4 linked regions of the Homo sapiens genome follow. The protein of the gene in region 4 interacts with the protein of the main gene of each other region in a biochemical or structural test. Each region holds a gene or a part of one and is shown on either strand. Other genes may lie near its edges.

Region 1 (7,480 bases), on a different chromosome or scaffold from region 4:
ACTCACCTCACTCGTGTGGTATTCCCCAAGGAGGGGAAGACAAAACAATTCCACCTTAAGAAAGGATTTCAGCATCCAGTGGGAATCCTAGCCCCCTGAGGTTTCCCATTGACCTTCATGAGTCAGCTCCTCTCAAAGGTGATTGCCTTTTGGTGGGGCTAGTTAGAGATGACTTCAGGAAAATACATGAATTTTAAACTGAGTCTAGAGGAGTGAGAGAGGAGCTTCTTTAGGATCCACAGGAGAGCTGGGTGATGACTGTCTTTCCACCTCTCCCTCAGGGAGCAGCTGCCCACCCTGACAGTGAGGAGCAGCAGCAGCGGCTGCGGGAGGCAGCTGAGGGGCTGCGCATGGCCACCAATGCAGCTGCGCAGAATGCCATCAAGAAAAAGCTGGTGCAGCGCCTGGAGGTGAGGCTGGGAGTTTCACCAGGAGCAAGAGAGAGTGTGGGTGCTGTGGGAGGAATGAACTGAAAGGGAGGTGCGGAGAGTAAGTTAATACGTCCTTGAGGCATAACCTGGGCAAGGTAGGCCAGGGACTGGGCTGGGCATGGGAATCCATGGGCTTGGTCTGACTACTCTTGTCTTCACAGCATGCAGCCAAGCAGGCTGCAGCCTCAGCCACACAGACCATCGCTGCAGCTCAGCACGCAGCCTCTACCCCCAAGGCCTCTGCCGGCCCCCAGCCCCTGCTGGTGCAGAGCTGCAAGGTAAGACTCTAGGAAGGATGTGGGAGTGGAAGAGGGAGACTTGTGGGTCTCTTATGACATTTTCACCTACAGGCAGTGGCAGAGCAGATTCCACTGCTGGTGCAGGGCGTCCGAGGAAGCCAAGCCCAGCCTGACAGCCCCAGCGCTCAGCTTGCCCTCATTGCTGCCAGCCAGAGCTTCCTGCAGGCAAGGCACCCCCTCTGCACTTCTCTGACCTGACCTTCCCACCTTTCTAAGCTTCCATCTCCCACAGTTTGAATCTCTGCCAAGAGCCTCTTTCCCAATACCAAGCCCCAGTGTTCCCTACATCCTGACCATCATCAGTCCTTGTACCCAAGCCCAGAGGGAGGATGGCACACTTCATCCACCTGCCTATTCCCCAACAGCCAGGTGGGAAGATGGTGGCAGCTGCAAAGGCCTCAGTGCCAACGATTCAGGACCAGGCTTCAGCCATGCAGCTGAGTCAGTGTGCCAAGAACCTGGGCACCGCGCTGGCTGAACTCCGGACGGCTGCCCAGAAGGTATGGAAGCTGGTTCTGGCTTTGGAAGATGAGGCTGGAGTCCTGTGATGAGAGGAAATCTGTGCAGAATAACCCAATACGCAGATAATTGTGTAATCAGAGGCATTGGTGAGACACAGCAGGACCTTCTACACCCAAAACCCCTTTCTTATCATAGGCTCAGGAAGCATGTGGACCTTTGGAGATGGATTCTGCACTGAGTGTGGTACAGAATCTAGAGAAAGATCTACAGGAAGTGAAGGCAGCAGCTCGAGATGGCAAGCTTAAACCCTTACCTGGGGAGACAGTAAGTATGTTTAAGACCTCATTCTTACTCAAATCCTAAAGTCTTCCTTCACCTCCGTGCCCCAGAGCTGCTCAAAACCTTTCCTTCCTTCCTTTTTCTTTTTTCTCTTTCTCTCTTTTATTTTTCTTTTCTTTCTTCTTCCTTCCTTTTTTCTTTCTCTTTCTCTCTCCTTCCTTCTTTCTTCCTTCCTTTCTTTTCTTCCTTTCCTCTCCTCTTTCTTTTCTTTTCTCTTTTCTTTTCTTTTCCGTTCTTTTATTTCTTTTTCTTTCTTGATGGAGTCTCGCTCTGTCACCTAAACTGTAGTGCAGTTGTGCAATCTCAGCTCACTGCAACCTCTGCCTCCTGGGTTCAAGCCATTCTCCTGCCTCAGCCTCCTGAGTAGCTGGGATTACAGGCATGCACCACCACGCCTGGCTAATTTTTGTATTTTTAGTAGAGATGGGGTTTCGCCATGTTGCCCAGGCTGGTCTTGAACTCCTGACCTCAGGTGATCCACCTGCCTCAGCCTCCCAACGTGCTAGGATTATAGGTGGGAGCCATCGCACCCAGCCCAAAACATTTATTTAAATTGCCACCTGTCCCCAAGTACCTTCTCAGGTTCCTTCTCCTCACCTTCTCCTTTCTCAAGCCCAATTCTTCCCCCTTCATCCTTAGATGGAGAAGTGTACCCAGGACCTGGGCAACAGCACCAAAGCCGTGAGCTCAGCCATCGCCCAGCTACTGGGAGAGGTTGCCCAGGGCAATGAGAATTATGCAGGTATGTGGGCAGAGAGCCAGGCATGGGGCATATTGTGAGGGAGGTAGGAAAATGGGAGCTGGATGAGGGATGGGACTGACAGACGAAACCACTGGAATCAGGGCCTGGCAATGAAAGCACCTTCCCTTCCCTCTTTCTCCTCATCTCCCAAGGTATTGCAGCTCGGGATGTGGCAGGTGGGCTGCGGTCACTGGCCCAGGCCGCTAGGGGAGTCGCTGCACTGACGTCAGATCCTGCAGTGCAGGCCATTGTACTTGATACGGCCAGTGATGTGCTGGACAAGGCCAGCAGCCTCATTGAGGAGGCGAAAAAGGCAGCTGGCCATCCAGGGGACCCTGAGAGCCAGCAGCGGCTTGCCCAGGTCAGATACTGGGAAAGGGCCACTCCCTCTCCCCCAGGTTCCTTCATAAGGCCCACCCTGATTGAGGCCAAAGCTTCTGAGCCTCGTCCACACTCACAGAGTGATGTCTTCTTGGGTCTGCTCTTGACAGCCCCTCTGTGGATTCCACCCTTATGTTCTCTTAGTCTTTTTTTTTTTTTTTTTTTTGAGACAGAGTTTTGCTCTTACTGCCCAGGCTGGAGTGCAATGGCGCAATTTCGGCTCAGTGCAGTCTCCGCCTCCTGGGTTCAAGTGATTCTCCTGCCTCAGACTCCCTAGTAGCTGGGACTACAGGCATGCGCCACCACACCCAGCTAATTTTTGAATTTTGTTTTAGTAGAGACAGGGCTTCACCATGTTGGCCAGGATGGTCTCGATCTCTTGACCTCGTGATCTGCCCCCCTCGGCCTCCCATAGTGCTGGGATTACAGGCGTGAGCCACTGTGCCCGGCCCTCTTGGTCTTGTAGAAGTGTCTCAGTTGGATTCAGTCATGGGCTGAGCTAAACACCAAGTTTGGGGAAGTTTAATTACTGTCACTTGAAACCCTAACCTCAGCCTGTTCACCTACAACGCCCCCTTTCTTTTTTCACTTTCAGAGGCAGTAGAGCTAGTCATCTCCCATGTCGCGTGAATGGAGGCGATCTCTCAAATTCTTTTCACTTGGGCAACCCTGTCTCCTTTCTCACCCCAGGTGGCTAAAGCAGTGACCCAGGCTCTGAACCGCTGTGTCAGCTGCCTACCTGGCCAGCGCGATGTGGATAATGCCCTGAGGGCAGTTGGAGATGCCAGCAAGCGACTCCTGAGTGACTCGGTAGGAGGACGGTAGGGGGTGGGGGAACGTAGGAGTCAAAGAATGCCAGGCCTCTCCTTCCTCCCTCTCGGTTGTCCTTTGACCCTGACTTCCCAGATCTGTCCCCTTTCATTACTCCCAGGCTATGTGCCCACCTTTTCAGCCCTCCTTTACCAGACTTCTCCCTGCATCATTCCCCACTCTTCTGTCTGACTTCCCCTCTCACCTTGCAGCTTCCTCCTAGCACTGGGACATTTCAAGAAGCTCAGAGCCGGTTGAATGAAGCTGCTGCTGGGCTGAATCAGGCAGCCACAGAACTGGTGCAGGCCTCTCGGGGAACCCCTCAGGACCTGGCTCGAGCCTCAGGCCGATTTGGACAGGACTTCAGCACCTTCCTGGAAGCTGGTGTGGAGATGGCAGGCCAGGCTCCGGTATGAAGAGGCAGAGGGTCTGGTTGAATGGTTCCCACTAAGGGTTAGATAGGAGGCAGTTGAGTGACCAGTCCTGACTTGCTCCTGGCTCCCTTCCCTCCCCAGTCTCTAGCACTACTTGAGTGTCTGGGAAAGAAGATCCCTTTTAGAGACAGATAAGAAAGGACAGGACAATGCATTGACCTTGTCACCTTCAACAGAGCCAGGAGGACCGAGCCCAAGTTGTGTCCAACTTGAAGGGCATCTCCATGTCTTCAAGCAAACTTCTTCTGGCTGCCAAGGCCCTGTCCACGGACCCTGCTGCCCCTAACCTCAAGAGTCAGCTGGCTGCAGCTGCCAGGTAAGTAGTTGCTGAGAAGCCCAGCCCTGGACTGTGTGAGAGAGACTGGGGAGCAGGCAGTTCATGAGAGCTTCTTGGCTTAGGAATGGTTATAGGCAAAAGATAAATACTTACATAGGACCCAGGAATGATGACCTATTCACCTTTTCACTCAACTTTCTGTCACTCCCAGGGCAGTAACTGACAGCATCAATCAGCTCATCACTATGTGCACCCAGCAGGCACCCGGCCAGAAGGAGTGTGATAACGCCCTGCGGGAATTGGAGGTAGACACATGGCAGGCTGATGGCATTGAGGTTGAGGGAAGTGTTCTGGTTTTGGGCCTGAGGGAGGTGTCTTGGATCTCACTTTGCCCTCCCCCTACACAGACGGTCCGGGAACTCCTGGAGAACCCAGTCCAGCCCATCAATGACATGTCCTACTTTGGTTGCCTGGACAGTGTAATGGAGAACTCAAAGGTCAGCACAGCCAGGAACTCGGAGGAGAGAGGGCAGTAGGATGGAGCTAACCAGATGCTGCCCTGGGGTTCTGAGGACATGCTCTGACTCCCCTGATGTCCTCTGTTCCTCAGGTGCTGGGCGAGGCCATGACTGGCATCTCCCAAAATGCCAAGAACGGAAACCTGCCAGAGTTTGGAGATGCCATTTCCACAGCCTCAAAGGCACTTTGTGGCTTCACCGAGGCAGCTGCACAGGTTATTTTCCTGAGATGGGTTCTTTGAATGGCCCCTACTTTCTTTACCCCATTTTCTCTCAGCCTGACATACCTGTAGATAAATCAAGAAGTTTATGTTTGCAAAGCCAACTCTATGGAATCTGGGTTGTCCTCCTCCTGAAGTGGAGACACTTGTCAGCAATTACTGAACACCAGCAGTTCTGATTTCTGTAATTCCTGAACCCTGGTACTTTGGTTAGGATTACACTGCCCAACCGTGAGGCCTTTTCCAGCTGGCTTTCTCAAAATATACTAATTAGCTTATACAAACTATTTTTTCATGTTATTACTACTTTCTTTTTTTTTTTTTTTTTTTTTGAGACAGCGTTTCGCTCTGTCGCCCAGGCTGAAGTGCAATGGCGTGATCTAGGCTCACTGCAAGCTCCGCCTCCCGGGTTCACGCTAGTCTCCTGCCTCAGCCTTCCAAGTAGCTGGGACTACAGGCGCTCACCACCACACCCGGCTAATTTTTTGTATTTTTTTTTTTTTTTTTAGTAAAGACAGGGTTTCACCATGTTAGCCAGGATGGTCTCGATATCCTGACTCGTGATCCACCTGCCTCGGCCTCCCAAAGTGCTGGAATTACAGGCGTGAGCCACCGCGCCTGGCCTGTAATCACTACTTTCTTTTTTTTTTTTTTTTTTTTTTTTTTTTGAGACCGAGTTTCGCTCTGTCGCCCAGGCTGGAGTGCAGTGGCGCGATCTAGACTCACTGCAAGCTCCGCCTCCCGGGTTCACGCCATTCTCCTGCCTCAGCCTCCCGTGTAGCTGGGACTACAGGCGCGCGCCACCATGCCCGGCTAATTTTTGTATTTTTAGTAGAGACGGGGTTTCACCGTGTTAGCCAGGATGGTCTCGATCTCCTGACCTCGTGATCCGCCCGTCTCGACCTCCCAAAGTGCTGGGATTACAGGCGTGAGCCACCGCGCCCGGCCAATCACTACTTTCTTAAAATAGTACTAGTGACAAAATTTCCAGTTACTTGAGTTATCACTTAACTTTGCCTTTTCCCACATTATCAAGTATAAAACTACCTATTAGCTGTAAAGTATTTTGCTTTAGTATATGAATCCTTAAAACAAACTGGCATCATAAGAGTTCACTTCAGACTATTTTCCCTGAAAGCCTACCATCCTAGCCCTCCATCTCCACCACCTCCCTGTGCCCTGTCAGAATAGGCGCCTTGCTCTAGATGGCTTGTTTGATTTTGTTTTTTTGTTTTTTTGGTTTTTTGTTTGTTTGTTTTTTGAGACGGAGTCTCGCTCTGTCGCCAGGCTGGAGTGCAGAGGCATAATCTCGGCTCACTGCAACCTCCGCCTCCCGGGTTCAAGTGATTCTCCTACCTCAGCCTCCCGAGTAGCTGGGACTACAGGCGCCTGCCACCACACCCGTCTGATTTTTGTATTTTTAGTAGAGACAGGGTTTCACTAAACCTCTTTGTTGTTTGTTTGGTTTTTTTCCCCCCACCTTCTGAAAATGCATAGAGGAAAAAGCAAAGCTACTGTGTATTGATTGAAGTATGAATCAAACATTAGGATGTTCTTTCCATCATAAAAATGGCTTTTTAACCCCTCCCTTCCTTTCCAAATATCTGACGCATGGAGGTGCTATAAATGTGAATTAGCCTAATAACCTTCATCAGTTTTGAACTGTCTTTAAAAGAGGCTTTGCTTGTGTGCACAAAGGTGTGTATTTATATATGGCTCTCAAACGTTTTACTGCTACTTACAGTAAGCCATACTTTTCACTCTAAGACCCAACATACACAAACATATCTAAATAGAGATTGGATAAAAACCCTTGCTATGTAGTTTTCCTTTTTATTAACTTTTTTAATCTTCTGAAATGCTTGAATATACTTAATGAAAACAGGAGAGTATTTTTTTTCTTCTTTATAGTGTAACCATTGTTTGCTAATGTATCTCCACTCATGGAGAACTCTGGAAAATAAGCCCTATTCTCTAAACTTACCTCTGCTCTCTTTTGTCCCTACTATCACTATTCATTTCCCACCTGCAATCTTTATTCCTCACCCCCACCCCCTTTTCTCTTCCCAGGCTGCATATCTGGTTGGTGTCTCTGACCCCAATAGCCAAGCTGGACAGCAAGGGCTAGTGGAGCCCACACAGTTTGCCCGTGCAAACCAGGCAATTCAGATGGCCTGCCAGAGTTTGGGAGAGCCTGGCTGTACCCAGGCCCAGGTAACTCAAGGGAACAGGGACCACAGGCGAGTCTGGGAAAGGGCAGACCGACCCCGTGGAGTAGAGGGAGGTGAGGCATGTGGGAAAGAGGGCAGGGACCCATCTCTGACCTTGCACACACAGCTTCTTTTTGGGTAACTGTCTTTTTCTGCCATGGGTCTCATCATTTATCAGTTACTGCTAAATTCACAACTTCTCTGTAGATGTTCGAGCTTACTCTCCCACATGCCCTCTTATGGTTTCTCCATTAGTATGTCTTTCCTCTCCCATGCCCAGTTCATCTTTGGGTATCTCTGTCTCCTAGATCTTGACTTTTCAGGTGACTCTGTTATTCCTGTTTTGACTCCTCAGG
Region 2 (7,480 bases), on a different chromosome or scaffold from region 4:
AAATTTGCTATTAATATTATACACAGTATGTTGGAGAACATTCATAATAATAATTCTTTGAAAACCTCAATGATTATTTCTGCAGATAAATTTCCATACATATTACAGAATTACTGGATAAGAGGAACTACCTTTGACAAGTTTAAATCTGACAAACCAAGGTATATTTTGCTAGGATTTCATACATCTAAAGTACTGTTGTGTTAACCTAATATATTTAGGTATAATAATTATTTTGGTATAATAATTATTTAGGTATAATATTTAGATAAAATAAATATTTAGGTATAATAGTAAGTATATAATAGGTTTTATATAATAATAGGTATATAACTATTACATAATTTATATGTATAATATATAATTATTATTATACCTAAATAATATATATTAACCTAATATATTTAGGTATATTGATCATTATACTTAAATAATATATTTAAGTTAACATAACAGTATTTATTATAAACCAGAAATTCAGCAAAGCCATGTAGCAAAAGGAGAACAAAGTCCTAACAAATGTGAAAAGCAAATCTGACCATCCAGGGATTTTCTGTAATAGCACTTTGTCAGTATTAACAAATAGAACAGAGATGTTTATGATCATTCTACCTTGAATATGCCTGATTTCAGAAGGAAGGGAAGTTATACTGATACTTCTGAGGGATCTTAATCTTTCCTATTTAATAATTAGAATTTACAGACCAAAACTACATAAATATTTTCAATAAAGAAAAAAAGGCCAGGCATGGTGAATCATGCCTATAATCCCAGCACTCTGGGAGGCCCAGGTAAATGGATCACTTGAGGCCGGGAGTTTGAGACCAGCCTGGCCAACACGGCGAAACCCTGTCTCTACTGAAAAATAGAAAAAATTAGCCCGGTATGGTGGCAGATGCTTGTAATCCCAGCTACTCAGGAGGCTGAGGCATGAGAATTGCTTGAACCTGGGAGACAGAGGTTGCGGTGAACCGTGATCGTGCCACTACATTCCAGCCTTGGTGACAGAGCAAGGCTCTGTCTCAAAAAAAAAAGAAAGAAAATATATTTAGTTTAAAGGTTGCTTAACAAGGTAAAAAACTACTTAAAATTATACAGATTATAATTTTCACTTTGCAGGGCAGGAAGGTACATTGCAGGAAGGACTACCTCACAGCATTGCTTTGAGAATAGAAATAGTCAGGAATGGTTGGCTCATGCCTGTAATCCCAACACTTTGACAAGCTGAGACTATCACTTGAGACCACGAGTTCAAGACCAACCTGGGCAATGTGGCAAGACCCCATCTCTAGAAAAACTTAAAAAAAAATTAGCCAGACATAGTGGCATGCATCCGTGGTCCCAGCTACTCAGGAGGGCGAGGTGGGAGGACTGCTTGAGACCAGAAGGCTGAGGCTGCAGTGAGTCATGTTTGTACCATTGCATTCAAGCCTGAGCAACAGCGTGAGGCGTATCTCAAAAAAAAAAAAAAAAGAGAGAGAGAGAATAGAAATCTATCTAATTAGAAAGCATAGAGCACAATGAGTCATACTTTACTCCTCAAAGTTTAAGCTGCACTGTACACTAAATTGGCCACCAGATGGCATGACAATTCCAAAGTCTGAAGAAAGACTAAAAATTATCAGTTTTTCTAATAATCTAATAAACCAATCACTGTGCTTAATTTAAAAGCAAAATATTAGAAATATTCATATTTTTATATAACTTCATTTTACCAATTTAATGAGGTAGTCATGGAGGAAACAGACTTCTACATGCAATTACTGATTATAATACAATCATTTTGGGACATGGGCTGTAATTTTAAAAACATCAAGTCATCTTGCAACCATAAAATTTTAAAGTGAGAAAGGGTTTTAGAGTCTAGCCACCTCATTTAATAAATGAGGAAACTACTGACAGATGTAAAGAAACTTGGAAATGGGGACACTGTTAATAGTAACAATAATTAAACTAAAGCTAAGTTTTGACTTCTATTCCATGGTTCTTTCCACCACTCAAAGGATTATCATTATATTTAAAAATTAAAATCAGTCACTTCTAACCCTACAAAAGATTAGACTTCAGACACAGACCTTATTTCTCCCCTTCCAATGTATGCAGATAACTTTACTGGGAAAACTTGACTTGAAAAGGCTTAAGATTTTTAGATTATTAATATAAGTAAATCAACCAACTAAAACAAGCAAATACAATCAGCAAAACAAATATAGCTACAAATCCAGCTGACTAAGCTTTGGCCATATATATATATATATATATATATATATATATATATATATTTTTTTTTTTTTTTTTTTTTTTTTTTTGAGACGGAGTTTCGTTCTCGTTGCCCAGGCTGGAGTGCAGTGGCAGGATCTCGGCTCACTGCAACCTCTGCCTGCCGGGTTCAAGCGATTCTCCTGCCTCAGCCTCCCAAGTAGCTGGGATTACAGGCACCCACCACCACGCCCGGCTAATTTTGTATTTTTAGTAGAGACAAGGTTTCTCCATGTTGGTCAGGCTCATCTCGAACTCCCGACCTCAGGTGATCCGTCCGCCTCAGCCACCCAAAGAGCTGGGATTACAGGTGTGAGCCACAGCGCCTGGCGGTTTGGCCATATTTTTGTGAGCAGTTAGCCACTTGGTATCTGACTAAAAGAAGGTAGCAACATGTTCCCAATATGACAATTTTTTTAATTGCTTTAAAATTCTTCAAACTTTGCCTCTGTTAAATTTATGTATTTATATGCCTTTATCATCCAGATTTTTTTTAAAAGCCCTCCCTTTAAAAGCCATCATTTTATGGTATGAAAGTTATAATCTGACCTAGAATTTCCCCTGAACCACAGCATGTTAATACATGAATAAAATAAGATTCCCTACCTAAAATAACCTTTACCATCATCTTCTTTTATTTCTAAAGACACAGAGAAGGTAAAGATGTCACTGTCAGGAGTCTGGGGTGCAGCAGTGGCTGAAAGTGGGGTCTGCTTGGCAGAACGGCGGAAGGCAGTGGCAAAACTGTAAAGTATCCGGCTTACCTACAACCAGACATGTTAGGAAATGGGCTGTTATCAAAAGATATAAAATACCTTTATTAAGGCTGGAAGATTACCTACTTTGGAGGGCAATAATTATCTTTATCCCACTTATTTCTTTTGGTAAATTACCTAATTTGTTAGGCCTATAAAGCAAGCAACACTAAAAATGTCCAGACAAGGGGTTTTAAAAAAGAAATGGTTGTAAGCACTATAAATCCAATTTAAAAATCACTTCCTAAATTGTTAGAAACTATCTGAAGATATTACAATGAAAACAGTCCTAACAAGTTTTGATTTAAAAGAATGGTTTGCAAATCTGTCAATGTTAGAACCAGAATGCCTACTTAACCCAATCAAAAGTAGCCAACAGATCTCCTCTGACATTCTTAGTAGTAGTAACAAAGTTCTAGTTAATCAAATTTTTAGTTAATTTATATTTTGGCCCATGAGGCTAGAATCACTAAAACAATAGCAGAGAATTTCATCTGGCTTATGAGTGATCATAATAAATACCATAATCATTTCAACCTAGTGAGGGCACTGGTGAAGTTTCATTTGCAGAGAGTTTTCTCTTGAGGACTTACAGCTTCTTGTATTTCACACCGGAAGACGTGTATTCTGAAGAGCTCTGCATTGTAATGACTTTCAGTGAAAGCAAAACAGTCACTCTCAGGAGTTCCATCATGCCCTCTGACACAGAAGAGGATTTTGTAGATAGGGTAGTTTGCTATTTCAGTGTTTGTCTGAGGATCTAAGAGTCTGTTCAGAGAAAAAGATACAGAGAGATTACAGGAATTATGAACAATCTGCACTACGTTTAGATTAAGATGTGAGACTCATTCTTTCTAGTAAGAAGATCATATATTTGGTATGCTGATATTAACCTTAAATTTTAATAAGTAACTCATATGTGAATTCCGGAAGCTATTGATTACGTAATTCCATAGTACTAAAAACCATATAGTATCATGTTTTAGGGAGGCAAACAGAAAGGTATAAACAATATCAATAAGCACATTTCTTATACAGTCTGCTACAAAATAAAGACGATTAATACGTAAATTAGACTACCAAAATACATCATTGAAGCTGTGCTTTTTTTTTTTTTTTTTTGAGACAAGTTTCGCTCTTGTTGCCCAGGCTGGAGTGCAATGGCGCAATCTCAGCTCACCGCAACCTCCGCCTCCTGGGTTCAAGTGATTCTCCTGCCTCAGCCTCCCAAGTAGCTGGGATTACAGGGATGTGCCACCATGCCCGGCTAATTTTTTGTATTTTTAGTAGAGACAGGGCAGGTTAGCCAGAATGGTCTCAATCTTCCGACCTCAGGTGATCCGCCCACCTAGGCCTCCCAAAGTGCTGGGATTACAGGCATAAGCCACCACACCTGGGCAAAGCTGTGCTTCTAATTATCTCCTTTAAAAATGACCTAATCTGTTATGAAAAAATAAAAAACAAAAAACTGATGCTTTTTCTCAGACTGAAACAAGTTTTTTTTTGATTCATGGAAAATAAGGACAGAAATTATACAAAATGTTAACTCCTCAAAAAAAAAAAAATCATGAATAAAAGCAAAAGGATGCCATTCAGTAAAAAATCAAAGGGATAGCATTCATTCAAAAATCTACTTATTCAACAAATATTTATGTGATACCTACAACATTCCAGACTCTGATCAGGGCAGTAAGGCACAACTATGGAAGGTCTAAAAAGAAACTATGCAATTTCAACACTATGTGGGTAGAGCCATTAATGGGAAAGCCTAGAAGGCCTTGCTCATCACGGAAATACCTAGGAAGAGGATCTAACACAGGTTTGAAAGCACTTTTATGAAAACTCTAAAAATGTGGGGTAAAACCGACTAGCTTTCTAACTTCTTTTATAGAATTAAAAATATATTAAAGTCTAACTTCAGTTAGAGGAATGAGTATTGACTAAGAAACATATAGAAATGAGTGCTAAACACATTTTATTAATAGTTTATCATTAATAAATAGAATTTGTGAGTCTTTGCAAAATAGTTATTTAAATACTTAAGGGGAAAAATTACATATACAGATTATTTTACTACAATCAACACACAGCTATTACTCTGTCACCATGAAAGTCCAAAATACTTCTGAGGATACTGAGAAATGGATATTCTATATACTGCTGATAAAAGTATAAACTAGATCAATATTTCTAGATGGCTAGTTGGCAATGTTATTAGAAGCAATAAAAATAGACAAACTCAATAAGTTTACTTCTAGGAATTTATCCTAAGGAAATCAACAGAAGTCTAAAAAGATTGAGCTCAAAGATACCTATTTATAAAACACTGATATTCCCATATAATTAAAACTAGCTATCATCATTCATGCTTTTTTCTCTGAAAGATAAAAGCCTTAAAATGTCTAATATAAGAGATGGGTTATTTATTTATAACCCATTCATATGCCATCATAAATTAAAATTTTTAATAATATTTACTGGCATGAAAAGAGGTTTACGATATAAAACTAAGTACAAGATGGTATGTACAGGTCCATTGCTGTTAAAAAAAAAAGTTGATTCTAACAGTTGTAAATTATGTATGTATATATATGCAGGTATATTTACATATACCTAGACATATACATATACCAATATGCAAAGAAGATCTTAATAAGCCAAGATGTTAACTGTATTTATTAGTGGTAGAGTAGAATTAAGGCTATTTTTATGTGGCAATTTTTTTAAATAAGCATGTATCTTTGGTAATAGGGAAAAAAAATTTATTTTACCTGCATTCATCTGACTTATTGAGCAACAGTATATTTAGCTGGTTGATACAGACATCTGATTAGCTATCTGCAATTGTTATTTGTTCTATTAGTATAAACAGCTAGAGGCTTCTCTGTGCCTCAGTTTTCTCATCTTTTTTTTTCATTTTGCTTTGTTGAGACAGGGTCTCACTTTGTCACTCAGTCTGGAGTGAAGTGGCATGATCACAGCTCACTGAAGCCTTGAACTCCCAGGCTCAGGTGATCCTCCCATTTCAGCCTCCTGAGTAGCTGGGACTATAGGTGTGTATGACCATGCGTGGCTAATTTTTGTATGTTTTGTACAGACAGGGTTTCACCATGTTGCCCAGGCTGCCCAGGCTGGTCTCGAACCCCTGAACTTAAGTGATCAACCCGTCTCAGCCTCCCAAAATGCTGGGATTACAGGCATGAACCACTGCACCTAGCCAGTTTTCTCATCATAAAAATTAAGGGGTGTGCTGGTATAGTTAATATTTAATAATAAATTTTTGTAACTTTCAAACTCAACATGAAACTCCATTTTGAAATAATGTGTCAAGCTTGTATTTTCATCAAAGGAACATGGAAAATATAATCTTTTAGGCTGACTCATGTCAATATATTTCATTTATCCCCAAAACATTAAATGCCTAATGTACTACACATGATCGGGAAGAGTACGAAAAACTATTACAAATAAGTAACCATTTTTCACAAAGGTCACAGTCCTTGGGAGACATGAGTGCCAGGTAAATGAAACGTTACACAAGTAAAATAACTATTAATATGTATTTTATTCACTATTGCTTCTTTCTGAAGCAACAGGTCAGAGATCTGATGTAAATATCGAAAGATTTCAACAAACCAGTCTCACCTCACAATTCCTTCAGACACATTCGGCACTGAAAGGGTAACATCTAGTGAAATCTGACACTGGCTTCTTAAGATGGACATCATCCTTAAGGCTTCCACTTCACTCCTGGGAGCATTTACCGAGGCACAGCCTAAGTAAGTCAGTTTACTGAAAACTACGCTGTCCTCATCGGCCACTGGTGTGAAAGGACTTGAAGCTTCAGAATCTGAAAGAAACAATGAATAAGGAAGTGATTACTTTCACTTTGATATTTTGTTGATACGATTAGCAAGTAAAAATCTGCAAGTAACATTTAAGGTCTAAAATTAAGTATTAATGAGACAATATGCCATACCCTAAAAGAAATGCCCATGAAAACCAGAAATCCCACACTAGAACTCTGTCAGAAACACCAAGATTTTTAGGTACAGGTTGAGCATCCTAAATTCAAAAATCTGAAACATGAAATGCTTCAAATTTCAAAACCTTTTGAGTACCTACATGACACTTAAAAGAAGTACTATTTGGGGCATTTCAGTTTTTGAATTATTGGATTTGGGGTGCTCAGCAGGTAATTATATGCATATTCCAAAATCCAAAAACATCTGAAATCTGAAACACTTCTGGTCCCAAGCATTTCAGACAAAGGATACTCAAAATATAGTGCTATTAGAGTCGGTCTCAATCAGACTCAGATTTGATTCACCTTTCTGCCTCTTCTAATTTGTTTTGACTTTGTAATTTACATTTAGGTCGAATATACATTTAGTATTTCTTCACTCTGAAACTCCTATCTCTGACTGTCATCTTTTTTTTTTTTTTTTTTTTTGAGACGGAGTCTC
Region 3 (8,264 bases), on a different chromosome or scaffold from region 4:
CACAGTGGGAGAAGGTCATGGAAAAGAGAATGTACGGGACTGGGGGATGTCAGATGTTATCCAAGGTGTCAAGAAACGAAACAGAAGGGAAAGGGGGCTCACACGCGTGTGCGTGTTTGTACACGCGTGTGCCTGTGTGCCTGTGTTTGTACACGCGTGTGGGTGTGTGCGTTTGTTCCCGTGTGTGCTTGTGTGCCTGTTTGTACACGCGTGTGCGTGTGTGCCTGTGTGCACGCGTGTGTGTGTCTGTGTTTGTACATGTGTGTGCTTGTGTGCCTATGTTTGTACACGTTGGGGATCAGGGGTTGACCCTTTAAACGGGAATCCAGGGAAGCCTCACGGAGGAGGCAACATTCTACAGAGACCTGAGGGGGAGGAGGAGAGAGCCGTGGAAAGATCCGGAAGAAGGGTATTCCCGGCAGAGGGCACAGCCGTGCAAAGGCCCCGGGGCAGGATCACGCCTGGTGTGTTGGAGGAACAGCGAGGAGGCGAGGAGGCCCGTGTGGCTGCAGCAGAATGAGGAGGGGGAGAAAGGGTGGAGGGAGGACAGGAAGGGGACAGGGTAGGTCGTGCAGGTTCCTGTGGGCCCCCGGGAGGACTTGGGCTTTGACCCCAAGGCAAGAGCCATGGAGCGCTGTGGGCAGGGGAGGGGTGGGACCTGTGCTGGGGGGCAGGTGCTCGGCAAATACATGTTGCGTCGATGAATGTCGCTGTCGCTGCGTGGGGGAATCCAGTCCTCCCAGCGCCCCACAGCACAGGTGCTGCCCCCCCACCCCCCCACCCCGTCCCGAAGTGCTTGTCAAGGCTGGCGAGCGGGTGGGTCTCCAGGGCACCCAGCGGACTCACCGGGGATGGCCTGGCGGTGGCTGAGCTCCAAGCCAGGCAGCCTCATCGTGGCCTGGCAGTAGAGGGCGGGCGGGACAGGGGTCCCCAGGGGCGGCAGCCGCCAGCGCTCTGTCACCCTGAACAGCACGTCCTCGTCCCCCTGGGGCTCCTCCTCCTCCTCCTGCACCTCCGGGCCCAGGGCTTGCGCCCCCTCCAGTTCCTGGCCCCCGACGAGCAGGGAGAAGGAGAGCGCGTTGGGGTCCACGGGCGTGACTTTGTGGGCCGTACAGGCCACCTCCGGGTCACCAGGCACCAGGGCTGCTGGGGAGACGGTCAGCTGGTCCGGGAAGGCTGTGATGGAGGGTCGGGGGTGAGGGCTGAGCCCAGAGTCAGGGCTGGACGTGATGGAGGGGCCGGAGCCCGGAGGGGCTTGGAGCTGGGGCCAAGGATGCGTGGGGGCTGCTGATGAACAGGCAGTAGGGACGGCCTGTGCGCAGGCCCCGTGGCCCCACCCTGGGAGGCTGGAATAGACAGGAGGATGGGCCAGGGCCGGCCCTGGGAGAGTTGGGGTGAGTTGGAGGGAAGCGAAGGCCGGGGACCTGGCTTCGGGGAGCTGTGCATGGAGCTGGGACCCTGCCTGCAATCTGGGAGGCTTCCAGGAAGAGGTGGCATAGGGAAGGAGCCGGGAGTCCAAGGGTCAGAGAGGCAGGGCGCGGGGGGACGCCTCACCGTACACAAGGAGCTGCACGGTGTGCTGGAAGGTGCGGCCCCCGCAGGAGCCCACGCACACGCGGGTCCCGGCCGCCGACAGCGAGGCGTTGCGCACGGTGAGGACGCTGCGGCCCGTGTCCGACTGCACCGCGCCCAGGCTGGTGTCCAGGCCCCGCCACTGCACCGAGGCCCCGCGGTCCGCGCAGGCCAGGCGGCAGGTGAGCTGGCGCGAGGCGCCCAAGGCCACGGCCACCACCGGCTCCGGGGGCTCCACCTGCAGGGGCTTCACCTGGAGGGACTGGCCTGCGGCGACCGCGGCTCTCGCTCAGCCCCGCGGAGTCCCGGACCCCGCCCCGCCACCGGCCCTGCGTCCCGCTCCACCCCCGGACCCCGCCCCGCCTCTGCCCGGTTCCCGGACCCTCCGCTGCACCCCCGGACCCCTGCCCCGCCGCTACCCGGACTCCCAGGCTCGGTCCCTGAACCCCGCCCCGACCGCCGCCTCTGCCCCAGTCCCCCGAACCCCAGCTGCCTGGAGCCAGTTTCGCTGCGGGTCAGGGGGCCGCGCGGAGCCCCGCAACTTCCCCTCTCAGCCCCTGCCTCCTCCGAGCCCCCTCCTCTGGCAGGATCACCAATCACCCCCTATCTCGGAGCCCCTTAACTCTGAGCACCCCTCGTCTCTCCCGCGCCCCCTCCGAGCCCCTCCTCTCTCCTGCGCCCCCTCTTAACTCCCTCCTCTCTCCCGCGTCCCCTCCCCGCTCACCGCGCCCCTTCCTCTCCCCCGGGCCCCCTCCCCTCTCCCGGGCCCCCCTTCTCTTCCGAACCCCCTCCCCTCTCCCGAGCCCCCTCCCCTCTCCCGAGCCCCCCTTCTCTTCCAAACCCCCTCCCCTCTCCCGCGCCCCCTCCTCTCTCCTGAGTCCTCTTCACTTTACTGCGCCCCCTGCTCTCTCCTGCGCCCCCTCCCCTCCGCGCCCCTCCTCTCTCCTGCGCCCCTTCTCTCTCCTGAGCCCCTTCTCTCTCCTGAGCCCCCTCCACTCTCCTGCGCCCCCTCCTCTCCCCTGCGCCCCTCCTCTCTCCTGCGTCCCTCCTCTCTCCTGAGCCCCCCCACTCTACTGAGCCCCCTCCCCTCTCCTGAGCCCCCTCCTAACTCCCTCCTCTCTCCCGCGTCCCCTCCCCGCTCACCGCGCCCCTTCCTCTCCCCCGAGCCCCCTCCCCTCTCCCGCGCCCCCTCCTCTCTCCCGCGCCCCCTCCACTCTCCTGCGCCCCCTCCTCTCTCCTGCGCCCCCTCCCCTCCGCGCCCCCTCCTCTCTCCCGCGCCCCCTCCTCTCTCCTGCGCCCCTCCTCTCTCCTGAGCCCCCTCCACTCTCCTGAGCCCCCTCCTCTCTCCTGCGCCCCTCCTCTCTCCTGCGTCCCTCCTCTCTCCTGAGCCCCCCCACTCTACTGAGCCCCCTCCCCTCTCCTGGGCCCCCTCCTCTCTCCCGGGCCCTCTCCTCTCTCCTGAGCCCCCTCCCCTCTCCTGAGCCCCCTCCTCTCTCCTGAGCCCCCTCCTAACTCACTCCTCTCTCCCGCGCCCCCTCCCCTTCTCACCGAGGAGGAGCCCCAGAAGCCCCGCCAGCAGGAGGGCCAGTCCGAAATCCATGCTCAGTCCCCTCTGTCCCGAGGCCGCGGGGAAGCCGCTTAAATAGAGGCGCCCACTCCTTCCCGCCGCCCGGCGACCCCGCTCCAGCTGCTCCCCGGGGGCTTCCCAAGGGGCTTTCCTGGCCTGACCCCCGACCCTGGAGGCGGCAGAGAGGCAGGGGCTGGGGGCCAAAGATGGGGCGGGGTCCCGGGGCCACTCAGGACGGGCAGGCAGGAAGGTCTGGGTCTGTTCCAAGCCTCATATTCAGGCACGGGAAGATCGCAGACGGAGGCCGGAGGGTCGAGGTCAAGTGCATGGAAGTGGGACAGAGGCTGGGCAGCGCCGCCCCCACCCCGACGGCGGGTCCCCTGCACTTTCTTTTCTTTTTTTTCTGAGTTTCGCTCTTGTTGCCCAGGCTGGAGTGCAATGGTGCGATCTCAGCTCACCGCAACCTCTGTCTCCCGGGCTCAAGCGATTCTCCTGCCTCAGCCACTCCAGTAGCTGGGATTACAGGCATGCGTCACCACGCCTGGCTAATTTTGTATCTTTAGTAGAGACAGGGTTTCTCCATGTTGGGCAGGCTGGCCTCGAACTCCCGACCTCAGGTGATCCGCCCACCTCGGCCTCCCAAAGTGCTGAGATCACAGGCGTGAGCCACCGCGCCCGGCCCGCCTGCACTTTCCCGGGCGGCCGCACAGGGGCGGTGGAGAGCAGCCCTCCCCCGTTCCGGAGCTGCAGGCCGGGTCTTGTTGGCTGGGGTCCCCTGGGGGTCAGGTGAAGGTCGCTGGGGATGGAGGCCCCCTGGACTGAAGTCTCCTGGCCGTGGTGGAGCTGTGAGACCCTCCAGGACGTGGGACAAGTCACCCCATCTCTGAGCCTGGCTTCCTTCCATCACACGGGCAGAGGCCGCCCACCTAGCAGGCCTGGCTGGAGCCTGGGAGCCCGAGTAGGGGCTGCCTCTGTTCCTTGGTCTACACTGAGACCTGGATCTCGGTCCACAAGAGGGATCTGGAAGGGATGCTGGCTGGACTCCCACTCACAGCTGCCATCAGCGAGTCCTGGGAACCTCATCTTCCAAACGCACTGGAATCCACCCACCTGTTCCTCCAAGCCCCGCACACTGGTTCTGTCTCCGCTGGTGGCTTGTTTACCCCCCTGCATCACCGGGACCCTCCCAGGGCCTCTGGGACTCTGCCCGGGCTGCTCCTCACCTTACCCAGGTTCTGCCCACCCCCTCACCCCCTCGCCCCCCACCCTCCTCCGCTGTGGTTCCCAGGGTGCTCTGCTCCTAGCTCAATGAGGGCCTGTGGTGGCAGTCGTGATGGCTGGCTCCCCTCCACCCAGGGGCCGGTCCTGTGACCCTGGACCCCATGCACCGCAGGCACGCGGGAATAAAATGATGGAGCATTCCTGCTGACCTCAGGGTCTGTCTGTGCCTCAGTTTCCCTGGCCATGGAATAAAAAGCAGCAGCCAGTCCATGGGGTTCCAAGCATTGCCAATCGGCTTACCTGTCAGAGGAGGGAAACTGAGGCCCAGGGGCAGGGCTGGGACCAGAGGAGGGAAACTGAGGCCCAGGGGCGGGGCTGGGACCAGAGGAGGAAAACTGAGGCCCAGAGGAGGGGCTGGGATCAGAGGAGGGAAACTGAGGCCCAGGGGCGGGGCTGGGACCAGAGGAGGGAAACTGAGGCCCAGAGGAGGGGCTGGGATCAGAGGAGGGAAACTGAGGCCCAGGGGTGGGGCTGGGACCAGAGGAGGGAAACTGAGATCCAGGGCAGGGCCTGGGTGCAAAGGAGGGAAACTGAGGCCTAGGGGAGGGGCTGGGTGCAGAGGAGGCAAAATGAGGCTCGGGGGAGGGGCTGGGTGCTGAGGAGGGAAACTGAGGCCTAGAGGAGGGGCTGGGTGCAAAGGAGAGAAACTGAGGCCTAGAGGAGGGAAACTGAGGCCCGGGGTGGGGAAACAGTCCCCTCAGAGGTGAGGGCCCAGGTGTGTGAGCTCACAGCCCTGTCTCCCTGGGTCCCATCCCCCTCCTGCCCAGGCTGGTGCCGGGAAAGGCCTCACCGGAAAGCAGACTCCGAGGAGGGGCCCTCCCCAGGCCGGAGGTGCAGGCCCTTCCCGGGAAGCTGGGCCCTTAACCCGGGCGGGGGGCAGCAGGCCTGGTGAATGGGCTGTTTCCCAGCCCCCGACCCTACTTCCTGCAGGTGGGGAGGGACCACTGGGCGCCAGGAGGGCTGAGGCCCCTTGCAGGGTGTGTCCCAGCTCTCCAGGGCCCTGTCCCCCGCCCGCCCGCTGGGTCACGCGTGGTGATCACGCTGCTCACAGTCCCCGTGTGCCGAGCCCTCACATCCACAGGCTTGTGGGGGCGGGGAGACAACAAAGCTGGGGTCCCCCTGAGGACAGGGCAGGTGGGATGGACACAGGAAGGAGGAGGGAGGGTTCCCAGAGGCAGAGGGACCCGCAGGTTTCAACGGCCAGAGGTGGGGAAGGCGGGGGTGAGGGAGACACAGAGACAGAGAGAGAGAGACAGAGACACAGAGAGACAGAGACAGAGTGAGGAAGAGAGACATAGGGAGACAGAGACACAGAGAGGGAGAGACAGATCAAGGAAGAGAGACAAGGCAGAGAGACACAGGGAGATAGAGACACAGAGAGACAGAGACAGAGCGAGGAAGAGAGAAGGCAGAGAGACACAGGGAGACAGAGACAGAGACACAGAGAGGCAGAGGCAGAGGGATGGAGAGACCGAGGTGGGCCAGCAGCCTGAGGGCCGGGGAGGACCCTGAGACCCCTGGGTCTGAGTCCTAGTCCCACAGGAAGGCCTACACCGTATCTTCCGCCGGCAACGGGGACCTCCTTTTTGTCCTTGGGAGACTCGACCCCGCCCCCAACATCAATCCCCTTCCCGGCATTGTCCTCGGCGGCCTCCGTCAGGAAGCCCCCTTCCCATGGAGGGTCCCAGCCAGGAAGCCCCCCTTCCCATGGAGGGTCCCAGCCATCCCACCAGCCCCAGACCCCACATCCTGGCCTCCCTGTCCACAGCTGCCGAGGGAGCGTTCCAGATGACTGTGTTGCCCTGAGGGGAAGGGGCTGTGAGGGCGCCGTTGTCCAGGAGCGGAGCACGCCCCAGGCCCTGACAGACCCTTCTTGACCCAGCTGGGCCAGCTCTCCTGTCTCCCACCCACTGGTCAGTTCTGGGGTCCTCATGGCTTTTTCTTTGGAGTGAGGACCCCCATCACGGCAGGGCCTCCTTGTTGGACAAGGCTTGAACCCAGTCCAAGGACCCCAGACCTGAGGGTCGCAAGGAGAGTGGGGGAGGAATGAGATTGATGGAGGCTGCAGGAGGGGGTTCAATAAGTAGCCATGTGCATGCATGTGTGTGTGTGCATGCGTCTGTGTGCGTGCATGCGTGTGTGCGTGTGTACGTGTGGAGTTGTAGCCATGAAGCCCACGATGGGGGTGGGCCTGGCTCCCGCATCAGGTTTAAGGAGGAAGGATCGACCGGGCGCGGTGGCTCACGCCTGTAATCCCAGCACTTTGGGAGGCCCAGGCGGGTGGATCACGAGGTCAGGAGATGGAGACCATCCTGGCTAACACGGTGAAACCCCGTCTCTACTAAAAATACAAAAAAGATTAGCCAGGCGTGGTGGCGGGCGCCTGTAATCCGAGCACTTTGGGAGGCCGAGGCGGGCGGATCACGAGGTCAGGAGATCGAGACCATCCTGGCTAACACGGTGAAACCCCGTCTCTACTAAAAATACGAAAAAAATTAGCCGGGCGTGGTGGCGGGCGCCTGTAGTTCCAGCTACTCAGGAGGCTGAGGCAGGAGAATGGCGTGAACCCGGAGAGGCGGAGCTTGCAGTGAGCCGAGATCGCACCATTGCACTCCAGCCTGGGCGACAGAGCAAGACTGTCTCAAAAAAAAAAAAAAAAAAAAAAAAAAAGGAGGAAGGAAGGATCTTCGTGGCCCACCTGGCACAGGTCCCTGAAGGAACCCTTGTCCGAGTCGAGTCCCTCCCCGCAGGCTGGCCGAGCTGACCACGTCGCTGAGCCTGGGCAGAGCTGACAGGCCTCCCTGGGGTCAGTGACCGCCTGGTGAGGGGCTGGGGCAGTGCTCAGTCTCCAGCAGCCCCGGGGAAATTGGACATGGAGCCTCAGGCGATGATGCTGGTGTGGTCTCCACGGCAGCCCCACCTGAGCTAATCAGGAGGGGTCTGGGGGGATGGGGGTCCATGGGGCAGGAGGCACACTATGGTGAGAGCCGGCTTGGGGCTGGCTCCGCCCAGGGGAGGGGGGGCTTGGGGCTGGCTCCGCCCAGGGAGAGGCGGGGCCTGGGGCTGGCTCCGCCCAGGGGAGGGGGGCTTGGGGCTGGCTCCGCCCAGAGGAGAGGCGGGGCTTGGGGCTGGCTCCGCCCAGGGGAGAGGCGGTGCCTGGGGCTGTCTCCTCCCAGGGGAGGGGGGGCTTGGGGCTGGCTCCGCCCAGGGGAGAGGCGGTGCCTGGGGCTGTCTCCGCCCAGGGGAGGGGGGGGCTTGGGGCTGGCTCCGCCCAGGAGAGAGGCGGTGCCTGGGGCTGTCTCCTCCCAGGGGAGGGGGGGCTTGGGGCTGGCTCCGCCCAGGGGAGAGGCGGTGCCTGGGGCTGTCTCCTCCCAGGGGAGGGGGGGCTTGGGGCTGGCTCCGCCCAGGGGAGAGGCGGTGCCTGGGGCTGTCTCCGCCCAGGGGAGGGGGGGGCTTGGGGCTGGCTCCGCCCAGGAGAGAGGCGGTGCCTGGGGCTGTCTCCTCCCAGGGGAGGGGGGGCTTGGGGCTGGCTCCGCCCAGGGGAGAGGCGGGGCCTGGGGCTGTCTCCGCCCAGGGGAGGGGGGCTTGGGGCTGGCTCCGCCCAGGGGAGAGGCGGGGCTTGGGGCCGGCTCTGCCTGGGGAAGCGGCGAGGCCTGGGGCCCTGGTCAGCTGCTCTGACGCCTTGGTGCTCCCGGGGGCATCTCCAGGCTCACCCCAGCTTCCACGGCCCTGTCTCACGGGTCAAAGGGCCACTCAAAAGCTGCTTTGAAGACGGGGGCCCAGCCAGGAGCCGCACAGGCCTCTCCCGAGGGTCTAGGTGGCTAGAAGGGCACAAGCCACACGG
Region 4 (7,480 bases):
ACCACCACCATGCCTGGATAATTTTTGTATTTTTAGTAGATATGGGGTTTCACCATGTTGGTATGGCTGGTTTTGAACTCCTGATCTCAAGTGATCCACCCGCCTCGGCCTCCCAAAGTGCTGGGATTACAGTCGTGAGCCACTGTGCCCAGACCCATTTCATTGCTTTTTATGGCCAAATAACGTTCTGCTGTATGGATATACCACCTTTTCTTTATCCATTCATCAGTTGATGGACATCTGGGTTCTTTCTACCTTTTAGCTATTGTGAGTAGTGCTGCTGTGAACATTTCTGTACCAGTTTTTGTTTGAACACCTGTTTTCAATTCTTCTGAGTATATACCTAAGAGTGAAATTGCCAGGTTATAGGATAATCCTATGCTCAATTTATTGAGGAACCAAATTGTTTTCCACAGAGATTGTACCACTTTACATTCCTTACACGGTAATGTATAAAGATCCCAATTTCTCCATGTTCTCATCAACACTCATTGTTTTTCATTTTTTGATAGTCATTCTAGTAGAAGTGAAGTGGTATCTCATTGTGGTTTTTTTCTTCTTCTTTTCTTTTCTTTCTTTCTTTTTTTTTTTTTTTTTTTTTTTTGAGACAGGGTCTCGCTCTGTCGCCTAGGCTGGAGTGCAGTGGCCCGATCTTGGCTCACTGAAGCCTCTGCCTCCCGGGTTCAAGCGATTCTTGTGCCTCAGTTTCCCGAGTAGCTGGAGCTACAGGCATGTACCACCATGCCCAGTTAAGTTTTGTATTTTTAGCAAAGATGGGGTTTCACCATGTTGCCCAGGCCGGTCTTGAACTCCTGACCTCAAGTGATCCACCCACCTCAGCCTCCCAAAGTGCTAGGATTACAGGTGTGAGCCACCATACCCAGATCATTGTGGGTTTCATTTGCATTTTCCTAATGATTAATAGTGTTGAGCATCTTTTCATTTGCTGGGTGGCTATTTGTCTATCTTCTTTGAAGAAATGTCTTTTTAAGTCTTTTGCTCATTTTGAAAGTTGGGTTGTCTTTTTGTTGTTGAATTGTAAGAGTTCGTTATATATTAAGGATACTCATCTGATATATAATCTGCAAATATTTTCTCCCATTCTGTGGGTTGTCTTCGCTCTCTTGACATTGTCTTTGATGCACAAAACTTTAAATTTTTGATGAAGTCCAATGTATCTGTTTTTCCTTTTGTTGTTTGTGCTTTTGGTATTACAGCTAAGAATCCATTACCAAGTCCAAGATTATGAAGATTTACCTATATACTTTCTTCTAAGAATTTATAGTTTTAGTAGTTATATTTAGGGCTTTGATCTCTTTTCAGTTAACCTTTGTATATGGTGTGAGGTGGGGAGGGGGTCCAACTTCATTCTTTTGCATGTTGAAAGCACCTTTTATTTTTTGAGAAAAAGTGGTGGCGTGTGCCACTACACCCGGCTAATTTTTGTATTTTTAGTAGAGACGGGGTTTCACTATGTTAGCCAGGCTGGTCTTGAACTCCTGACCTTGTGATCTGCCTGTCTCGGCCTCCCAAAGTGTTGGGATTACAGGCATGAGCCACGGTACCTGGCCTTTTTTTAAAGATGGAGTTTCAGCTGGGCATGTAATCCCAGCTCATGCCTGTAATCCCAGCACTTTGGGAGCCTGAGGCAGGTGGATCACTTGAGGTCAGGAGTTTGAGACCAGCCCGGCCAATGTGGTCAAACCCTCTCTCTACTAAAAATACAAAAACTAGTCGGGTGTGGTGGCGCATGCCTGTAGTCCCAGATACTTGGGCGCCTGAGGCCAGAGAATTGCTTGAATCTGGGAGGCAGAGGTTGCAGTGAGCTGAGATGGCGCGACTGCACTCCAGCCTGAGCAAGACTCCATCTCAAAAAAACAAAACAAAACAAAAAAGACAGAGTTTCACTCTGTTGTCCAGGCTGCAGGGCAGTGGCACAATTGCAGCTCACTGCAACCTCTGCCTCCTGGGATCATGTGATTCTCCTGCCTCAGCCTCCTGAGTAGCTGGGATTACAGGCGCCCACCACCACACCCAGCTAGTTTTTGTATTTTTAGTAGAGACGGGGTTTCACCATGTTGTCCAGGCTGGTCTCGAACTCCTGACCTCAAGTGATCCACCTGCCTCGGCCTCCCAAAGTGCTGGGATTACAGGCATGAGCCACTGTGCCCAGCCCCAGCCCCATTTTTTGAAGACAGTTTTTCTCATTGAATGGTTTGGCACCCTTGTTGGAAATCAATTGGCCACAGAAGCATAGTTTATTTCTGGACTCTTTCAATTCTATTCCACTGATGTATAATATATGTGTATCCTTATGCCAGTACCACACTGTCTTCTTTTTTTCTTTTTAAGAGACAGGGTTTCACTCTGTTGCCCAGGGCAAAGTACAGTGACACGATCATAGCTCACTGCAGCCTCAAACTACTGGGTTCAAGCTGTCTTCTCACCAGCACTGGGATTACACGCATGAGCCACTGCGACCAGCCAATGCTGTCTTGATCACTGTAGCTTTGCAGTATCTTTTTTACAAGATTATTTTGGCTATTTGGGGTTCCGAGCAATTCCATATAAATTTTAGGATCAGCTTTTCCATTTCTGCAAAAAAAAAAGGGCCAATGGGATTTAACTTTTTGACTTATGAAGCGTGGTAAATGAATTACCTGCTCATTTTAAAAAATTAATATGTTTTTTTAAAATCAGGAATTTGCTTGGCTTTCCTGAAGGTCACTCAAGGTATTACCCTGTCTCCAGGCTCTTTCTTCAATCTAGATTATCTTTGTGCAAAGTACAGAAAGTAGAAAATTTTTTTGCCAACACTGGCCTTTCTCCCCTTATCCCAGACCTGCAGAGAGTTCTTGTGGTCTAATCTTCATTCCTCTTGCTACCATGTCAACCAAGCAGAACTATTCTTCCTTGACTCTTTCACACACTCCCTCATCTGCTCCAGCTTTCTTTTCTTTAATTCCCAGTCACTGACCCTCTTCTCTTATTTAGAATCCAAGATTGTAAAAGCCGCCAAGTATGTCAGACTATTTATTCAACTTCTCCACTTTGCAGATGTGGAAACTAAAGCCCAGAGAGAAAGTCTGACTTGCCCCACAGCCAGTGAGTGACTGCAGCAGCACCAGAATCTGGTCTGTTTCCTGTTTGGCTCTTCTACCACTACGGCTTGGGATCTCGGTAAATAGAACTGGGTGCAGACTTTAGTGCTTTCAGGCTCAGTCCCCAAATCCTTTAGTAGGCCATTTTGCCCACCTTGGCCACATGAAGTCTGCACACAGGAAGGACAGATCTTCTCTGAGGCCCCTATTTTTTTTTTTTTTAAGACAGATTCTTGCTTTGTCACCCAGGCTGGTGTGCAGTGGTGTGATCTCGGCTCACTACAACCTCCGCCTCCCTGGTTCAAGCAATTCTCTTGCCTCAGCTTCCTGAGTAACTGGGATTACAGGTGCACGCCACCATGCCTGACTAATTTTTGTATTTTTAGTAGAGATGGGGTTTCGCCATGTTGACTAGGCTGGTTTCGAATTCCTGAGCTCAGGTGATCCACCCACCTTGGCTTCCTAAAGTGCTGAGATAACAGGCATGAGCCACCACGTCCGGAGGCCCCTACCTTTGCGTGATACCTGCTCCTTCCCATTATTTTGAAGAAACTGCTGAATCCACAGGGGAAGTGAAACTATGAGGGGAGATAAAGTGTTGGGGCAGAGTTTTGAGAGTGATAACCACAAGCTAAGTTTAGAGGACTGAGAGTTTGAGAGTCCTCCCTGAGGACCCACATGTCCCCCTTTATATCCTATTACAGGGCATGGTGGCTTTGCCAATGGTCCTTGTTTTGCTGCTGGTCCTGAGCAGAGGTGAGAGTGAATTGGACGCCAAGATCCCATCCACAGGGGATGCCACAGAATGGCGGAATCCTCACCTGTCCATGCTGGGGTCCTGCCAGCCAGCCCCCTCCTGCCAGAAGTGCATCCTCTCACACCCCAGCTGTGCATGGTGCAAGCAACTGGTAAAGATGGGCCTATGGTCTTTGAACCATGTGTATGTGTATGTGTATGTGTATATGTATGTGCAGCCTGGATATATGTGTGTGATTGTGTGGGCACATGTATGATTTTCTGGGAACACTCCACAGTCTCATGTGTGACTGAGTTTGTGCACATAGGACTCCTGTGTGTGGATATACGTGTGTGCATACACATGCATGCAAGTTTCTTGTGCACTTAGGATTATGTCTGTATCCATTTGCTTGTGTATATATGGAGAGAATTTGTGACCATGAATTGGGAGAAAGTATGTGCTTGTGGGAATTCATGCTTGTGTATAGGTAGAGGGAGCTGTTGTGTATGTAAACATGGGAGAAAGGTACTACCCAGTGCGGGCTGCCATAACAAAATACCATAAGCTGGGTGGTTTAAGCAACAGGAATTCATTTCTCCTAATGTTGGAAGCTGGGAAGTCCAAGATCAAAGTGCTGGCTGATTTGGTTCCTCAGTTAGGGCCCTCTTCCTTGCTTGCAGACTGGCTACCTTCTCGCTGTGTCCTCACATAGTGGGGATGGGGTTGGGGGATGGGGGTGGGAACTGCCTCTCTTCTTGTAAGCGCACTAATTCCATCATGAGGGTTCCACCCTTAGGCCCTCATCTAAGCCTAGGTACCTCCCAAAGGCTCCATCTCCAAATACCATCACATGGAGGGTTAGGGCTTCAACAGAGGATGGGGTGGGGGTGGGGAGGGGTAGGGGTGCAGAGTTCAGTCCATAGCAGCAAGTGTGTGGTTAGATTTCTAAGTCTGTGTTTTGGGTGGAGGCATTCTGTTCCTGGGTGTGTAGTAGCCTATGACTGGACAGGTAGAAAGGGAAGGGGTGGAAGCATATGGGCTTGAGGGGGACTGGAAAGGCTTGAGCTACCTAAGTGGCCAAGAAGGATGCTAGGGAGCAGGTGTCTCCCTGGCTCTTCAAACAAAGCTGTTGTTTGTTTATGCTTTAAAGAGACAGAACTCATGGAGCAGCAGAGCAGGAGGGGTGCCCAAGCTGGGATGGGGGCAGGTCTGCCTCTCTCAGTGTAAGATGGAGGGTTAGATCAGTGTGGGAGCCCAGATAAGAGATGGGGGCAAATTCACATGGAAGCAGAGCTACAGATGCTTAGAGGACCCAGGAGAAAGGCACACAGGGACCCAGGAGAAAGGCACACAGTGAATCTGACTGGACAAGAAGGGTAGATACTGAGTCTGCACAAGGCAGAGAGGCAGAGGTGCCAGGCTGGAGCTGGGGAGCTGGCGCTCTTGAGATGGTCAGGTCTGTGTCTGGCTTCTCCAGTCTCCTGACACCTAGGGCCAGCTGAGAAGCCGCTCTAACCATTTCCTTCCCCTGTGGCTTCCCAACCAGTCCCAGGGATACCAGACATATTGGTGGGGAGGACGCCTCCTCTTCTGTTCTTATCCTTTCCTTTCCAAGGAGCTGTGGGTCTTAGTCTGACCACCTTCCCATTTTGGTGTGAGCTTGCTGGGGAGGTTGGCCTAGGAGGCAAGGCCCCTGTTTTTTTGTGGTAGTGAAGTCTCTAAGATCTCAACAGGAAGTCTGTGACTCTATTGGGGAGGAGAGGGGTAGGTGGCTGGGGCAAGGGGGAGTTGAGATAGGGGAGGGGTGGGGGACTGCTATAGGAAGTGGGGCTCTGACAAGGAAGAAAGGACCAGAGTTCCACCGGTGGCGGTTCATGCCTGTAATCCCAGTACTTTGGGAGGCTGGGGCAGGAGGATTTCTTGGGGCCAGGAGTTCGAAACAAGACTGGGCAAAAAAGCAAGACCCTGTCTTTACAGTAGGAAAAAAAAAAAAGGCGTGGTGGTTCACGTCTGTAATCCCAGCACTTTGGGAGGCTGAGGTGGGCGCACTTGAGGTCAAAAGTTTGAGACCAGCCTGACCTATATGGGGAAATCCCGTCTCTACTAAAAATACAAAAAACCTGGGCGTGGTGGCACATGCCTGTAGTCCCAGCTACCGGGAGGCTGAGGTACGAGAATCACTTGAACCCGGGAGGTGGAGGTTGCAGTGAGCGGAGATAGCACCGCAGCACTCCAGCCTGGGTGACAGAGTGAGACTCCGTCTCAAAAACAAAACAAAACAACAAAAAAGACCGGAGTTCAAGGGTAGCTGTGGCGAGGAAGAGGGGAGGGAATCAGGGACTCAAGGAGTGGACTGGAGGTGGGGGCATTAGAGGTGGCCGGGTTTGCAGGGTGTTTTTGGGAGCGGGGCCCAGGGCCTATGCAGGACCGGGTCCCGACGCGCCTTTTCTTGCTGAGCAGAACTTCACCGCGTCGGGAGAGGCGGAGGCGCGGCGCTGCGCCCGACGAGAGGAGCTGCTGGCTCGAGGCTGCCCGCTGGAGGAGCTGGAGGAGCCCCGCGGCCAGCAGGAGGTGCTGCAGGACCAGCCGCTCAGCCAGGGCGCCCGCGGAGAGGGTGCCACCCAGCTGGCGCCGCAGCGGGTCCGGGTCACGCTGCGGCCTGGTGAGTTAGGGGAGGCGGGGCCAGGCCAGAGGTCTAGGCTGGCGTTCCAATGCGCTCTGCTGACCCGCCCGCCGCCCACCCCCTAGGGGAGCCCCAGCAGCTCCAGGTCCGCTTCCTTCGTGCTGAGGGATACCCGGTGGACCTGTACTACCTTATGGACCTGAGCTACTCCATGAAGGACGACCTGGAACGCGTGCGCCAGCTCGGGCACGCTCTGCTGGTCCGGCTGCAGGAAGTCACCCATTCTGTGCGCATTGGTGAGCCGAGCGCTGCCTCCCGCCCTGTTAGCCCTTGCCTATTCAACCACTGCCCTAGCCTCTGCCAACATCCTGGACTCACAAGGGCCCCAACTTGCCCTCCCAGTTGTTGACAGGCCTAGCCAGGCCACAGGTTCGTTCCTGCATCTCTCCCTAGACACCCATCTTCTAGGTCAGAGCTGGAGAGGACTCAAGAGACTATCCGTTTTACAGGCCTGAGACCCAGCGTCTGGAGAGACTGTGCTCAGGCACTCTCTGGGCCTGGACAGCTGCCCTGGGCCTACCAACCTGGAACCTGCCCTGATGCAAGTCTCCCTGGACAAGACCTAGATGCCACTGTCCCTGGCTCCACATTCTGTGCCAACTCTCCTCTATTCAAATTTCCTTCCTTTGCCTCATGCTGCTACCATATCCTATACCCGGGCCTTCTTCCGCCTTCTGGAAGTTCCCATTTGCCCAGGAAGTTGTGTCCTCCTCTTAATGTCTTCTACCTGCCACTTCCCTGAGCCAGTGGTCTCACTGCTTTGCTTGCCAGTTACCAGGTCCCTGCCCCCTAGGTGCACCCTCTCCCATCACCGTCCTCCCCACCCCACTTCCCATAGAGCGCTCTCATGGGTCCTCTGTTGCTGCCCTGCGACTTCTGGCACAACCTTCATTCCTCTCCTCTCCCAGGTTTTGGTTCCTTTGTGGACAAAACGGTGCTGCCCTTTGTGAGCACAGT

What was found.
Region 1: the proteins of ITGB7 (region 4) and TLN1 form a complex in vitro, tested with the Homo sapiens proteins (one study listed by BioGRID).
Region 2: the proteins of ITGB7 (region 4) and RABGAP1 form a complex in vitro, tested with the Homo sapiens proteins (one study listed by IntAct).
Region 3: the proteins of ITGB7 (region 4) and MADCAM1 form a complex in vitro, tested with the Homo sapiens proteins (one study listed by BioGRID).

What each region holds. Positions count from the first base shown.
Region 1 is NC_000009.12:35,707,989-35,715,468, reverse strand, and holds part of TLN1 (talin-1), read left to right. Parts: intron 1-281; coding exon 282-410; intron 411-592; coding exon 593-709; intron 710-781; coding exon 782-895; intron 896-1,095; coding exon 1,096-1,230; intron 1,231-1,387; coding exon 1,388-1,516; intron 1,517-2,170; coding exon 2,171-2,273; intron 2,274-2,425; coding exon 2,426-2,634; intron 2,635-3,344; coding exon 3,345-3,464; intron 3,465-3,676; coding exon 3,677-3,874; intron 3,875-4,074; coding exon 4,075-4,214; intron 4,215-4,386; coding exon 4,387-4,480; intron 4,481-4,582; coding exon 4,583-4,672; intron 4,673-4,727; exon of another isoform or gene 4,728-4,785; coding exon 4,786-4,908; intron 4,909-6,984; coding exon 6,985-7,128; intron 7,129-7,480. UniProt on the Homo sapiens protein: High molecular weight cytoskeletal protein concentrated at regions of cell-matrix and cell-cell contacts. Involved in connections of major cytoskeletal structures to the plasma membrane.
Region 2 is NC_000009.12:122,985,599-122,993,078, reverse strand, and holds part of RABGAP1 (rab GTPase-activating protein 1), read right to left. Parts: intron 6,865-7,480; coding exon 6,660-6,864; intron 3,783-6,659; coding exon 3,608-3,782; intron 3,024-3,607; coding exon 2,866-3,023; intron 1-2,865. UniProt on the Homo sapiens protein: May act as a GTPase-activating protein of RAB6A. May play a role in microtubule nucleation by centrosome. May participate in a RAB6A-mediated pathway involved in the metaphase-anaphase transition.
Region 3 is NC_000019.10:491,408-499,671, reverse strand, and holds the start of MADCAM1 (mucosal addressin cell adhesion molecule 1 isoform a precursor), read right to left. Parts: upstream 3,187-8,264; 5' UTR 3,173-3,186; coding exon 3,121-3,172; intron 1,840-3,120; coding exon 1,555-1,839; intron 1,177-1,554; coding exon 847-1,176; intron 1-846. UniProt on the Homo sapiens protein: Cell adhesion leukocyte receptor expressed by mucosal venules, helps to direct lymphocyte traffic into mucosal tissues including the Peyer patches and the intestinal lamina propria.
Region 4 is NC_000012.12:53,196,772-53,204,251, reverse strand, and holds part of ITGB7 (integrin beta-7 isoform a precursor), read left to right. Parts: intron 1-3,057; 5' UTR 3,058-3,180; intron 3,181-3,798; exon of another isoform or gene 3,799-3,805; 5' UTR 3,806-3,808; coding exon 3,809-4,009; intron 4,010-6,300; coding exon 6,301-6,502; intron 6,503-6,588; coding exon 6,589-6,759; intron 6,760-7,431; coding exon 7,432-7,480. UniProt on the Homo sapiens protein: Integrin ITGA4/ITGB7 (alpha-4/beta-7) (Peyer patches-specific homing receptor LPAM-1) is an adhesion molecule that mediates lymphocyte migration and homing to gut-associated lymphoid tissue (GALT).